Linked DNA regions of Homo sapiens. The protein of the gene in region 1 purifies or fractionates together with the protein of each later gene. This does not show direct contact. Each region holds a gene or a part of one and is shown in the gene's direction. Other genes may lie near its edges.

Region 1 (3,180 bases):
ACATTGTGACTTACTCCCGTTGAGCTGCTCTTCCCGAAGCACTGAGGCAGGAGTGCTCTCCACCCAACAAACTGGCCTCTCAGTTAACATTCCTTAGCAGTGCAAGTCAAAGAGACACTTTAAAGTGTCTCTGATTTTTAATACATCACTCTGCAGGTCAGTGTCTATCTGGAAATTTCTATGTGAGAGGTGATGGAACCAGAGTTTACTTCTTCACACAAGGTATGAAACACTCATCTTTTTACGCTAAAAGTCCCCAGTACCAGATGGTCTTCAAGGCACATTCAGAAGGAAAACTATCTGGCCCCTCCTGCCTTTTAGGCAGGCTGTTTCCTTCGGTTCCCCGCTGCTCACACCCTCTTCCACCCTGGGCTAGGCTACCCATGGCAGCCAGCCACTCGGGCCCCCAGGCAGCCCTGGCTTGTCCATGCCTTCAGTCCTGCTCTGCTCTCCCTGTCTGCCACTGTCCAAAATGGGAAGCCTGCCCACTCTGCAAGGCTCACCTCCAGTCCAGCCTGTCTCACCCTCTACACGGGGTTGTGCTTTGGTGTGCCTGGGTCAGGGTGAACCCTGGGTTCTAGGGGTGCCGGGAACTGCTCTCCTCTGCAACTGGCCCATCCACAGGCTTCATCCTTCACTTGGGCCTTCTGTTCCTGGGCCCTTTTTAGGGTCACCTTCTTTGAGCCTTTGGTTAAGATGATGAAACCTCTTTCCTAAAGCAATTGCTTTGACATACGTAGATAGTTTTGCATAAATTTTAAGGTGTTCATAGAGCCTAAAGGCCAAATATAAACCAAAGGTTTTTAAAAAAGAAAAAACCGCGGCCTATACACAGTGGCTTCCCCTACCTAAACATGAACTTGTTGTTACCAAGCCACCACTGCATTTATAACCAAATGGCCATGTAAAAAACACGACAGCAACTTCCCAGAGCCCCATTTAACAAGGACTTAGTAGATAAAAATGCCTTTTCTTGAGGGGAAAATGCATAAACATCTTTTATTTTCCACACTAGAGGAACTGGACACGCTTTTCACCACTGCTGGACTGGAAAAAGTTCAGAATCTGGTGGACCGCCGACTGCAGGTGAACCGAGGGAAGCAACTGACAATGTACCGGGTTTGGATTCAGTGCAAATACTGCAAGCCCCTTCTGTCCAGCACCAGCTAAGAGGCACCTGCTGCCAACACGATGCAAGCCCGTTGTGTTTCCGAGCTTTTTTAAAAAAAAATTTGTAGCACCGGGCATGGTGCATGCCTGTAATCCCAGCCACTCAGGAGGCTGAGGCAGGGAGGATCCATTGAGCCCAGGAGTCCAGCCTGGGCAAAATAGCGAGAGACCCTGAATCTGAAAGTAATGATAAAATAAAAAGAATATAAATGAGGTCTCGTTGATGCTGGACAATTCAAGAATTCAGACTTGAACCTTAAACCTAGGAAAAGTTACTTTGTATCAGGATTCTAACAATTATGCTTCATATTTGTGAAGTCCTTTAAAACATAATTTTCTCAAGTTCTTTCTTTGAGACCTCAATCTGTCTTAGCATTTTGTAACTAATAACTGAAATTTTATTCAAAGGAATTGTAAACCTTAAACCACCATTTATTTCCATGTGAAAAAGTGTTATATATGACAAGTGTTTTTTGATTGTAATTGCGTTAAATCTTTTGAGAGTGTAAATGCCGGGCTAGGCAATTGCAGTTAATACATACAGGGGTTAGTGAAGGGCTTATTAAGTTGTAGGGGAAGCAAGCTGGGAAGAATCAGATCAGATATTTTCCTGACAAGAAAAAAATGACCCTGTAGACAGCATCAAAATGTGGTGTTCTTGTTAAGTAATTGATCGTGGTCTTTGCTTTAATCTTAGTTCCGCCAGGCACGGTGGCTCACACCTGTAATCCCAGCACTTTGGGAGGCCGAGGCGGGCAGATCACCTGAGGTCAGGAGTTCGAGACCAGCGTGGCCAACATGGTGAAACCCCGTCTCTACTAAAGATAAAAAAATTAGCTGGGTGTGTTGGTGGGTGCCTGTAATCCAGCTACTCGGGAGGCTGAGGCAGGAGAATCACTTGAACCCAGGAGGCAGAGGTTGCAGTGAGCTGAGATTGCGCCACTGTACTCCAGCCTGGGCAACAAAGCAAGACTCTGTCTCAAAAAAATAAAAATAAAAAAAATCTTAGTTCCATGGAATTTTAAGCACTGTTCCCCCTCTAACCTATGTCTAAAGAATTAAAAGAATTTGGCTGGGTGCGGTAGCTCATGCCTGTAATCCCAACACTTTGGGAGGCTGAGGCAGGTGGATCACGAGGTCAGGAGATCGAGACCATCCTGGCTAACACGGTGAAACCTCGTCTCCACTAAAAATACCAAAAAAAATAGCTGGGCATGGTGGCATGCGCCTGTAGTCCCCTGTAGTCCCAGCTACTCGGGAGGCTAAGGCAGGAGAATCGTTTGAACCTGGGAGGCAGAGGTTGCAGTGAGCCGAGATCATGTCACTGCATTCCAGCCTGGGCAACAGAGGAAGACTCTGTCTCAAAAAAATAAAAGAAAAGAATTTTCACTTTTTGCAAAATTATCTTTTTTTACTGCACCCTTAAGTGTTTGACACAAAAGGAATTGAGAGAACTTCTTAATTTTAACCACATCATCACTTCACTTCTGAATGTGATCACTGTCAGTGTTAGATGCTTTTTTTTTTTTTTTTTAGGAGACAGGGCTCTCACTTTGTTGCCCAGGCTGGAGTTCAGTGGTGCAATGATAGCTCATTATCACCTCGAACTTCTGGCTTGAGCCATCGCTCCACCTCAGCCTCCTGAGTAGCTAGGACTGCAGGTGGGCACCATCATGCCTAGCTAATTGTTAGATCCTTTTTTTTTATGTTCTGCATTTTTTCAATTATTTTTACATATTTCTGTCTTGATCCATGCAGTTATAGGATATATCCTTAATTTTAGAAAGTAAGGACTTTTCGACCAGGCATGGCGGCTCACGCCTATAATCCCAGCACTTTGGGAGGCTGAGGTGGGCAGATCACTTGAGGTCAGGAGTTCCAGTCCAGCCCGGCTAACATAGTGAAACCCCGTCTCCACTAAAAAATAAAAAATCAGCCCGGCATGGTTGTGGGCGCCTGTAATCCCAGCTACTCAGGAGGCTGAGGTAGGAGAATTGCTTGAACCTGGGA
Region 2 (3,503 bases), on another chromosome or scaffold:
CTTTAGTTAAAATTATAAGACCTAATTATGAGTGATCAAATTAAATTCATTATGGACAGTCTCAATAAGGAGCCCTTTAGGAAGAACTATAATTTAATCACGTTTGATTCCTTGGAGCCAATGCAACTATTACAAGTTCTCAGTGATGTTCTGGCTGAGATTGACCCAAAGGTAAGAGTTTTCTCTTTCTTTTTGATGGGTAGCAGAAAGCCAATTTCTCCCTCTAAATAGCTGTGAGTCTTGGGCACATTATTTAACCTCTCTGAGCTTTATTTTCCATGTCTGTAAAGTAATAGTAAATAATGCATAACATTTCTCTGCTAGCTCAAAAATAAATTATCTATTGGTACCTTATTTCAAAATTATTTATCCACTTCCAGACATAAATAGGTTTGGTTAGGGAATGAAAATTCTTTTACAAAAGGTTTTATTGTATTGCAAGTTAGTTCATGTCTCTCATACACTGGTCCATTCCACTGGATACTTTTTTTGAAGCTTAACATTCTTAATGTGAATCTTGATCTGACTTGGGTGTACCCTCACTTGGAATCTGGGGGCCTCCATCCTTAATCTGTTTTATGAAGAGACCATTGTGCTGTTAAGCTCTAGCAGAACAATTTTGTCAGTGAGTTTAAATATTGTCCTTTGTTACATATACAACAATAACATGTTTTTTTCAATTTCTTTGTTAGCAACTTGTGGATATCAGAGAGGAGATGCCAGAGCAGACAGCCAAACGAATGTTGAGCCTTCTTGGTATTCTTAAGTACAAACCTTCAGGAAATGCCACAGATATGTAAGAATCTGATCACGTATTGAGTTTTTAAAATTATGCTTTAATATCCAAACCTTCATATACTGCAATCAATCTTTGTAGGTAATACCTGGTTTCCCTCATTTGATGGCCTGAGAACATCACTGAGTTTCAAAATAATCTTAAACCTTCTATAAACAAACTCAGAAGTCTTAAGAGGGTCAGTTCTTTGCCTTAATCAAACTGTCTGGTAAATCCACTATACCATTTTATCCTTTATCTGCCATCCTAGATAAAAACAGCTTAAACACAACTTCCTTGGATATGCCAATGATATATTGAGGGCCAAATTTTTCTAATTTTCTAACTAATGTACAGACTGACTTTAGAATAGCCTTGGGGCCAGGCATGGTAGCTCACACCTGTAATCCTAGCACTTTGAGATGCCAAGGTGAGAGGATCACTTGAGCTCAGGAGTTTGAGACCAGCCAGGGCAACATGGCGAAACGCTGCCTCTACAAAAAATACAACAACAAAAAATCAGCTGGGCATGGTGGTTGGTGCCTCTAGTCCCAGCTACTTGGGAGGCTAAGGTGGGAGGTTCACCTGAGCCAGGAGGTTAAGGCTTTGGTGAGCTGCGTTGTGCTCAAGCCTGGGCAATAAAGTGAGACCCTGTCTCAAAAAAAAAAAAAAAAAAAAAAAAGATTCCTTGGGTTTATCTTTTTTAAAAAGTTACAGAAAGCAATTTGGACATTGTAAATCAGATTTTGAGAAAATGCTGTCTCTCTTCAAAGTTTACCGTTAAGTGCGTGTGTGTTTGTGTATGTGTGTTTCTCTCTTAGGAGTACTTTTCGTCAGGGTTTGGTGATTGGAAGTAAACCTGTAATTTACCCAGTGCTCCACTGGCTTCTTCAGAGGACTAATGAACTGAAGAAAAGAGCATATTTAGCTCGTTTTTTAATAAAACTTGAGGTACCAAGTGAGTTTCTTCAGGATGAAACTGTGGCTGACACCAATAAACAGGTAAACAATACATAAATGGTACATTGAAACTGTAATGGATTTCAAGGTGTATATATTCAAATACATGTTACTCTTTTTTTATTTGCTGTCTTTGTAGTTCCAAGTGGCACAAGAAGATAAAACTGTATCAGCTAATGTTCAACTATGGCCACATCTCAAGATAATGGCTTTTGCACACAAATACTGTTTTAGTGATAGGAGTATGTGAATAGAAAAAAAAAAAACCTGATACTAAGATTTTAGAATAATTTATTACTTAGCAATTGTGGGTAAATAGAATCCTGGGTTAAGTCTGCACAGCACTTTGTTCATCAGTAAGGTGACTACATAGTTTTTTATCCAAATTTGAGAGAAACAGACTATCATAACATTTAAACACCAAGACAAATGGTTTAAATTGACACTATCCCAGGCAAATTGGGACATGTGAGGTCCTGGAAAGAAGCAGGCAAAGAACCTAGGCTTGCAGTCTCAAAGCACTTCCCAATCAGACAAAGGGTAGAGATAGATTCCGGAGTTTGAAATCTCAGTGCACCTTTCTTGCCAAGGTTTTGGAGTAACATTGGGCTCTGGCATAAGGTCTTAAAGCTCTTGAGTACTGAGGATTCTGGCTGGTCTGGCTTCTGATCCTGAGATCCCTAAGCACATTGCTGGTCAAAGACTGTGGAGAGAAAGAAACTAGACTCAGATTTAAAAGGACTTTGATTTTTTTTTTTTTTTAAAAAGTGCTTCTGTTTAGTGTTTCACACTTTTATTCCATAGCACTTACATAGACTGATTTGTGCCAAATTGTTGTGAATAGTTTGTCAATCTGTCTTTCCCAATAAATTCTGAGGCCCATAGAGACAGGTGCCATGTCTTATCCATCTTTATTTTCTTCCAGATTTTGTATAGTCACTTCTAATGTTAGCTCAATATTTGGATTGAATCGCAGTAACCAACTGAATATTTTTATTTTTATCCATATATTTTGCTATTTGGGGTAGACATGGCAGTAACTCAAAATAGAGTCAATATTGATCTCTTAAGACAGTATTTATGCAAATAATTATGTCAGATGTCACAGTAGATGCCATGGGAGAAGCACAGCAGAATGAGACCACCTGTCCTTACCTTTGAATATTTTACACAATGTGGGAAATAGAGAAGTGTAAATGTGTACTTTCTCCTTCCTAGGCTCCCACCATCGATAAATCTGATAAAAATTAATTTATCTAGAGGAAGTTGATTAAGTCTTTTTTTTTTTTTTTTCCGAGACAGAGTCTTGCTCTGTTGCCCAGGCTGGATGGAGTGCAGTGGTGCAATCTCGGCTCACTGCAACCTCCGCCTCCTGGGTTCAAGTGATTCTCCTGCCTCAGCCTCCTTAGTAGCTGGGATTACAGGTGCCCACCACCACACCCAGCTAATTTTTGTATTTTTAGCAGAGATGGGGTTTCATGATGTTGGCCAGGCTGGTCTCGAACCCCTGACCTCATGATCTGCCCACCTCGGGTTCCAAAGTGCTGGGATTACAGGCGTGAGCCACGGTGCACGACCTGATTAAGTCTTTGCTAAATATGCTCAGCTAGTTGATGAAAGAATTAATGGTAATAAAGACATACTTGTTCTTGAAGCATATCTGACAGGTATCTCTCTCTATATATATGTATATACATATACATATATATATAAAATGAGAAAGAGATATACACACACACAATGATTTACAATATATAATGATTTACAC

What was found. The genes of interacting proteins can lie anywhere in the genome.
Region 2: the proteins of METTL2B (region 1) and IFT81 purify together in Homo sapiens (pull-down; one large-scale study listed by IntAct). This does not show direct contact.

What each region holds. Positions count from the first base shown.
Region 1 is NC_000007.14:128,500,747-128,503,926, forward strand, and holds part of METTL2B (tRNA N(3)-cytidine methyltransferase METTL2B), read left to right. Parts: intron 1-156; coding exon 157-222; intron 223-1,015; coding exon 1,016-1,170; 3' UTR 1,171-3,180. UniProt on the Homo sapiens protein: S-adenosyl-L-methionine-dependent methyltransferase that mediates N(3)-methylcytidine modification of residue 32 of the tRNA anticodon loop of tRNA(Thr)(UGU) and tRNA(Arg)(CCU).
Region 2 is NC_000012.12:110,127,354-110,130,856, forward strand, and holds part of IFT81 (intraflagellar transport protein 81 homolog), read left to right. Parts: intron 1-6; 5' UTR 7-27; coding exon 28-171; intron 172-692; coding exon 693-796; intron 797-1,596; coding exon 1,597-1,777; intron 1,778-3,503. UniProt on the Homo sapiens protein: Component of the intraflagellar transport (IFT) complex B: together with IFT74, forms a tubulin-binding module that specifically mediates transport of tubulin within the cilium. Binds tubulin via its CH (calponin-homology)-like region.